2 linked regions of the Homo sapiens genome follow. The protein of the gene in region 1 purifies or fractionates together with the protein of each later gene. This does not show direct contact. Each region holds a gene or a part of one and is shown on either strand. Other genes may lie near its edges.

Region 1 (3,500 bases):
CCAGATGCTCTAAGGCACCTTCATGGACCCTCCTGGTGTCTGCCCGACAGTCTCAGCATCTGGAAGGTTCCAGCTCCCACAGCTGGTGTGGAAATCTCCTCCTCACCCCACCTGGGTCCCCTGCCCATTTCAGCCGTCACCTAGCTGGATAAGCCTGGACCACTGAGTGCTGCCCTAGAGGGAAAGTCGGAGCCCAGGAGGTCCCAGTAGGCCTCGGGTAGCCCCTCATGTCGCACGCTGGCCCCTGCCAGGCTGCATGCCCTTGGCACTGCCTCGTCCCACATACATTCCATATGGGGACCTAGAGCCGCAGGAAAACACAGACCCACACAGGCCCGGCTTCACTGTGAAAAAACAGGCATCATAGAAAAGGGTCAGAAAACGGGTTACTGCATCTTTCACATTTCATGATACTTTATCGGTTTACTATCATAGTAAACGTAAGCTTGAAATAAAAAGGTTTCTTGTCACTAAGTTGAGTCTACCTCGAACTGCCACCCACAGCCACTCCGTGCACAGAGCAGCAAAGAAAAGCCCCGTCCCCATCAGTGGCCACCCTTCCCCGACTGGCAGCCACACTCCCCAGGTCTGGGAAGGCTGCTGCACCCCAGCCCTATACCCCAACCCTACAGGATAGGGAGGCTGGCAGAGAGCTCGAAAGGATCTCACCCTGAGGCTCTGATGCAGGTCTTGGGTTTAGAGACCCCTCCAAACGGGGAAGGTTCAAGCCTAGGAACAACTATGATTTTGTAGCGGGGTGCATCGGTACCTCAGGAAACAGCCAAGACTCAGCGAGCATTTACTGGATAATAAGCCTCAAAGAACTGGACTCCCAGGCCAAGGGCGGCCTTGCCCACAGAAGTCTCAGCTGCCCAGAGCTGGGAGGCTCCTCCCATCACCTCTCCCTTGATCCTGATCGCAGCAGGGAATCCTCTCACTTGGGGAGGTAGGCAGGGAGCCCCCATCCCAGTGGGATCTGTAGAGAGGGCACCCCCCGCCAGCTCTGGAGCTGGCATGGCCACTTGTCCAACAACTGGGACAAGGGTGGGCCACACTCCAGCATATGGCATGGTGACAGGCCACCATTGACACCGAGTGCAGGAGGGGAAGGACATCCAAGTCCCTGGGGAGTCTGAGCGGGCTGCACTCTAAGGGGAGCTCCCAGGAAGTAGCAGGGCCCCTGGGAAGGGTCCCAGAGGGAGACCAGCCTGCCCCAGGCCAGGCTCTGTCGAAGTCCACGGGAACATCCTTGAGTGAGGGTGTTCAGCCAACAGGGCTCCAGGGACAAGGCCCCGAGGGCGTTTGCTGGCTCTCAGATCCAAAGCCGTTTTCCAGATCTAAGTCAGGCCTCATCACAGCTCAACTCATCAGACCCAAGCCGGGGCAACAGGAGGCTGACTAGGAGGGGCTGGTGCATGTTTCTCAACAGCTGGAGGGCACTGGGGCAGGAACCATGCGACAGCAGCCCAGGGTACCCAACACACCTGCTTCCTCCAGAACCCAGGGGACAGCAGAGGAGAGGAGACCCTGGGACTGACGGTCCCTCTCCCCTGCACCTCACGTTTAGGCCTAAGGACTCTGACCTAGCAACATGCAGCTAGGCTTCCGGAAGAGGGACCACAAGGGCTCAGTGATAAAAAGGAGAGGCCGATCAGAGGCTCAAAGTCAGCTCTGTCTAGGGAGGGAGAAGCTTCCAGAGTATGGCCACAAGAACCTTCACGGCCCATGTCCTGAACTGGGAACACTAAGACCCCCCCCATCCAGCGGCAGGTGACAGGAGCTGATGGAGAGGGAGACCACCCCAGCAGGCTGGGTGCAAGGGAATGAATGAAAGGCTCAGGGCTGGGGCTGGGGCTGTCACAGGAACGATCCCCCCACCTCCCTCCACAGGCATCAGCACCAGGCACAGCTGCTCCCTAGCATGAGTGGCGTCTTTAGAGGCTTCCCCTTTGAACCTTAATGCTGAGATGTCCCTCAAGGCTCACTACTCCCCTGTGCCCGCAGCAACCCTCCTGCAGGCTGAAGCCCCACATCTGCTCAGTTCCGCCAGGACGGCAGGGGCCAGGCCGGGATGCTACACCTTCTCTCCCTTGGCTTCACCTCAAAAGGCAGCTGGGGGGCCCGGGCTCTGTCTGGGTGTGAATTCCACTCCTATGACGCACTGGCCATAGGACCTTGGGCAAGGCCTTAAATCTGAGTTTTCCCATCTGTAAAATGGGTTGATAACAGCACCTGCAATCCACTTGGTGGGACTGCTGCCAGGATGAAATGCACATCCGTAAACACCTGCGATGCGGCTGCAGAAGCACCTCCACTGCTCCCCGGGTCAGGTGGCGCTGCTGCCACCACAGTTCCCTGCAGATGCCAAGGCCCCCTGCTGTCCATCCCATGCTTTCTGTTGGTCACCGCTCAAGTTGTCCCCCAAATGTCAGGCGATGCTCCTTTCCTGCCATCAGGTCCTGGTGGCCACAGATCCCCACCAAGGCCTTTCCTCTTGAGGCTGGGCCACAGTCCCTAATCCTAGATAGGCCCCTGGCCAGCCCTGTGCCCCGGGGGCAGGCTGCCTCCTGGACTGGACAGGAGGGGCGGGGCACCCTCCAGCCCACACTAGTGCCCTCCTGCTCACCAGTGGCTGGTGCAGTGCCAAGGCCCTCAGGCCCTGGAGGCACAAAGGTCCCTACACCTGGGAGGGTGCTCGTCGGCATCACCAAAGCCGGGCATTTACCCAGAATCCCACCAACACAACTGCAGGCTCTCCAGCTTCTGTCCCCAGGCCCTGGTTTAACTGTGTGGGAGGCAGTGGTGATCCCAGGGGCCAACCAATGTCCCCAGCAGCACAGCCCCCAGAACAGTCTGGTAAGTGCCCTGCCCTGGGCACAGCGTGGGGGCCCTATGTAGGACACTAATCACAGCGGCTGTGGGGAAGACAGTGGCCCCACAGCCACATGCCTGACCCAGAAGACACGGTCCCAACCTGCCACGGGACCCCACACACATCTCACATCACTGAGGGATGCTGCTCGGTGTAGCCCACACACACCACCCATGGCACCAGGCCGCCACCATCTACGACTCCCACTCCTGGGCAACCTCTGCCCATCTCGGAGTCTGGAACCTGCTCTCCAGGCCCAACCTGACCTGGGCCCCACGGCGAGTCCACGGAGTTGGCTGACTGAACAGCGCCACTTCTCTCCCTCTGACAACCCATCCACTGGGGCCTGGCCTGGAGCGCAGGCTGTGGAAGTCAGTTCCGAGTGAAGCCAACACCTGCTCCCTCCCCTCACCCGGCCAGTGCAACTTTCTCCATTCAGACACAAACTCCAGATGGCCTTAGGGAGATCTTCTCTCACGGGGGACAGTCGCAAAGGAGGTGGAGGACAAGGGTGACACGCCCAAGTCCATAGGCATTAGCAGCACTCTCTTCTGCAAACTGTCAGGGGGATGAGGGTGGCACTGGCCCCACACATTGGTGCTTGGGGGAGGCGGGGCTCTCGGGCGCA
Region 2 (3,500 bases), on another chromosome or scaffold:
GAAAAACCAGCAGAAAAGAGGAATCTGGGGACAGAAGAGAGGACCAGCCCTGCCACAGCCCAGAGGATTTCATGCAGTGAGGCTTGCCTCCCCAGTGTTAGACCATCTGGGGAGGTTTGCTTTTTAACCTGGCAGAATTTCCAAGGAACTTAACCTTGGTGTCTAGGGAATTTGTTAACCTTGGGCAAAGTCAGAGACATTGTTGCTCGTGGCTATTACCCAACAAGGGACTAAATCATACTTATTGTACATATATATTTATATATTTTATTTGTAAATACTTCTGAAAAGCACCCCTGATATTGTAAAGTTTGGTTTCTATTTAACTATGACATAAGAGAACAACAACAAAAAAGCTAAAGAGAAAGTTACTAAGATAAAGAACACACACAGCAAAATCTCATCTTTCAGTAAAAAAATTAACTTTAACAACAAATATGGGAAACTATTTTCTGTGCACCCCTATTAGACGAGAATCACCTCAGTGAAGGAGAGCAAAATTAGAACATTACATCGGCTTCATGCCAGCACCTGAAAGATGCTTTTAATGATGCGATAAATGTTATTTATGGACCCTGAGTCCCAGTTTAAATATACCAGGAAAACTAATGTTTAATGAGCAATTTGATGTAAAAAGACTCCCTTTTACAAAATGAATATCAAATCCCCCATTCTCCCTGCAGTTTATTTTCTTCAGGAGCTTAGATATTTATATATTGCATTCGCTTAAAGCAAGACATATCTTTTGCAGGACTGGTCTAGGAGGGCCACTTACTTGATTGTGGGTTCTCCGCCTTCCATGCTGATCACCTGTCCTTCCTATACCCTCTTCTCTCCCCTAAAGTCTGCAGAAGTTGATTTTAGCCAAGCAGGCCAGTTGCAACCCTGTCACCACCCACAGTAGCCTTGAGCCAGCCAAAAGGCAATTTGGAGCATCCCTCCCCAGCCTGCGAGGGGGACCCAGGGGAGGGTGGGGACCTGGGAGCAGGCAGCCTCCTTTGCGTGTCCTCATTACCTGCCAGGTACTCAATGACTGCCGCCATGTAGACAGGGGCGCCCACGCTGATCCGGTACTTGAACGTCCCTTTCTTCAGATAACGCATCAGCCTCCCCACTGGAAAGATGACACCTGCCCTAGCTGAACGGGACAGCTTGGACATTTTCTTCTTCCCACTCCGGCCCGACATCTTGCTTCAGTTTCCCTCTCAGCTTGCTGACACAGTGGCCTCCCGGCACTAACACAATGCTAAAAAGGAAAGAAGACAGAGTTGAGGAAGGGTAGTTGGCAAACATCTTGGGCACAGTGGCATGGCCCTTGGGCACCACTGTGACACCTCTGACTGCCCTGGGGAGGCAGCTGAAATCTGGCTGCTACTGCAGGTGCAGGAGGCACGGAGTCAGGCATGGGGTCTCTGAAGGGCATGGGCAAGCCCACCCACAAACATCCCTCCCCCACCAAAGCAGCCTGACCTCAAGAGGAAAGGCCACAGAAAACTGTCACTGAATAGGGAGGTCTCGGTCCTGTGGTCAGCTGAACAATGATCCCCAAAGATGTCAATTTCCTCATCCCCAGAACCTGTGACTGTTATCTTATATGACAGAGACTTTGCAGATGGGATTAAGCTAAGGGTCTTGAGATGGGGAGGTTTATCTTGGATTATCTGGATGGGGCTAACATAATTGCCTTAGAAGACGGAGGCAGGGGGTCAGAGTGGGCAGTAAGAGATGTGAGAACAGAAGGAAAAGGATTTTCCCCTCAAAGCCATCAGAAGGAATTAGTCCTGCTGATACCTTGACTTTAGCCCAGTAAGGCTAATTTTGGACTTCTGACCCCTGAACTATAAGAAAATAAATTTGTATTGTTTTAAACACTAAGTTTGGGGTAATTTGTTCCAGCAACAATAAGAAAACTAATACAATTCCTCTTGGCTTATATGACTTTGCCCATTATAATGGTTAGTGTATTAGTCTGTTCTCACACTGCTAATAAAGATGTATCCAAGACTGGGTAATTTATAAAGAAACAGAGGTTTAATGCACTCACAGTTCCACGTGGCTGGGGAGGCCTCACAATCATAGTGGAAGGTGAAAGGCACGTCTTATATGGCAGTAGACAAGAGAGAATGAGAACCAAGCGAAAGGGGTTTCCTCTTATAAACCCATCAGATCTCGTGAGACTTATTCACTACCACGAGAATGGTATGGGGGAAACCACCCCCATGATTCAATTATCTCCCACCAGGTCCCTCCCACAACATGTGGGAATTATGGGAGCTATAATTCAAGATGAGATTTGGGTGGGGACACAGCCAAACCATCCGTTAGGTTTGACAGACATAACTGAGAGCTGATGTGTATTTTTTAGACACTTTTCTAAATCCTGCAATAATGTAGCACTCAGAAATGGAAACAGGCCAGAAGAGGCAGTTTTACTGAATATGTGTGGTATGCAAACATAGCAAATGAAAAGCCATAATGCAGCCTGAGCGTCTGTTCCTTGGAATGAGGAATCCAGGTTGATTTTGGGAGAAACTTCACAGTCAGCACAAAGAGGTGAATTCAGCACCAGGAACTAAGAGAGAAACATTCACTGTTGCTTAAGGAAGCTATCTTTTGTGTGAAGACAAAATAATCACATATTCCTGGACAGAGTCTTTGTAAGCCCACCCACAATCTAGAAAATTGTAGTAGATCTTGGGTAGGCTTGGTCTGCTGGTTGACAGGGTACCGTAACCGACAAATGGAATATAATCTTCAGTAAGTAAAAGCAAATTACAAGGGACAAACGGTCAGGAGCAAAGAAAAGGAAAATGACATTTTCTAGGAAATGTGTTAATATATCAAAGCTCTCTTCCCCAAGGTCAATGGCGTTCTCAGGGGCCGTTTCCTCTGGAGATGAAAAATGAGAAAGTCAGAACAAATTGAAATTGGTTCTATCCATTGATCCTGGTTAGGTCATCATACCAACAGGCAAGATGGCAAAGGAAAGGAGGGCCCAAGAAAGTCCCTAAATATGACAGAAGAAGATATTAAATGAATGCTTGGTTAATATGAAATAGATACAAAACCAGGATTTACTTAATCTAGGTGAAAGAGTGAACAGATTTCAATTTTCTAAAGCATCTGATAACTCCATTACGACCAAGGAGACTATATTAAAAGCTCTGAAATTAGCAACAAAGCCCTTTCTCAACTCTCACCTGTCCCCGAGGTGAATGATTCAAGTTTGGGGCATTTTAGTATATACTTCATATACATTATTTAAAATGCTCATATGTACTTACTACTCCCCTATTTTATACTTCATATGTCGTTTTGCCACCAAAGGATGTAGCTATTCATCAGTTAGGTACAAGCAAAGATGAGAGAAGTGCCTTAGACTATTATCTCTTTGACTGCAAGGCCCAGAGATCAGGCAATGTTGCCATGTTGTTTTATCACGTTGTTTCTTCATCTGGAAGAAACAAGATCTCCCACCTTTGCCGTGCTGCTGCTGTCTG

The links. Proteins that work in one complex are often made in the same cells at the same time.
Region 2: the proteins of ZNF316 (region 1) and MACROH2A2 purify together in Homo sapiens (co-immunoprecipitation; one large-scale study listed by IntAct). This does not show direct contact.

What each region holds. Positions count from the first base shown.
Region 1 is NC_000007.14:6,647,318-6,650,817, reverse strand, and holds part of ZNF316 (zinc finger protein 316), read right to left. Parts: intron 1-3,500. UniProt on the Homo sapiens protein: May be involved in transcriptional regulation.
Region 2 is NC_000010.11:70,073,346-70,076,845, reverse strand, and holds part of MACROH2A2 (core histone macro-H2A.2), read right to left. Parts: intron 1,247-3,500; 5' UTR 1,188-1,246; coding exon 1,016-1,187; intron 1-1,015. UniProt on the Homo sapiens protein: Variant histone H2A which replaces conventional H2A in a subset of nucleosomes where it represses transcription. Nucleosomes wrap and compact DNA into chromatin, limiting DNA accessibility to the cellular machineries which require DNA as a template.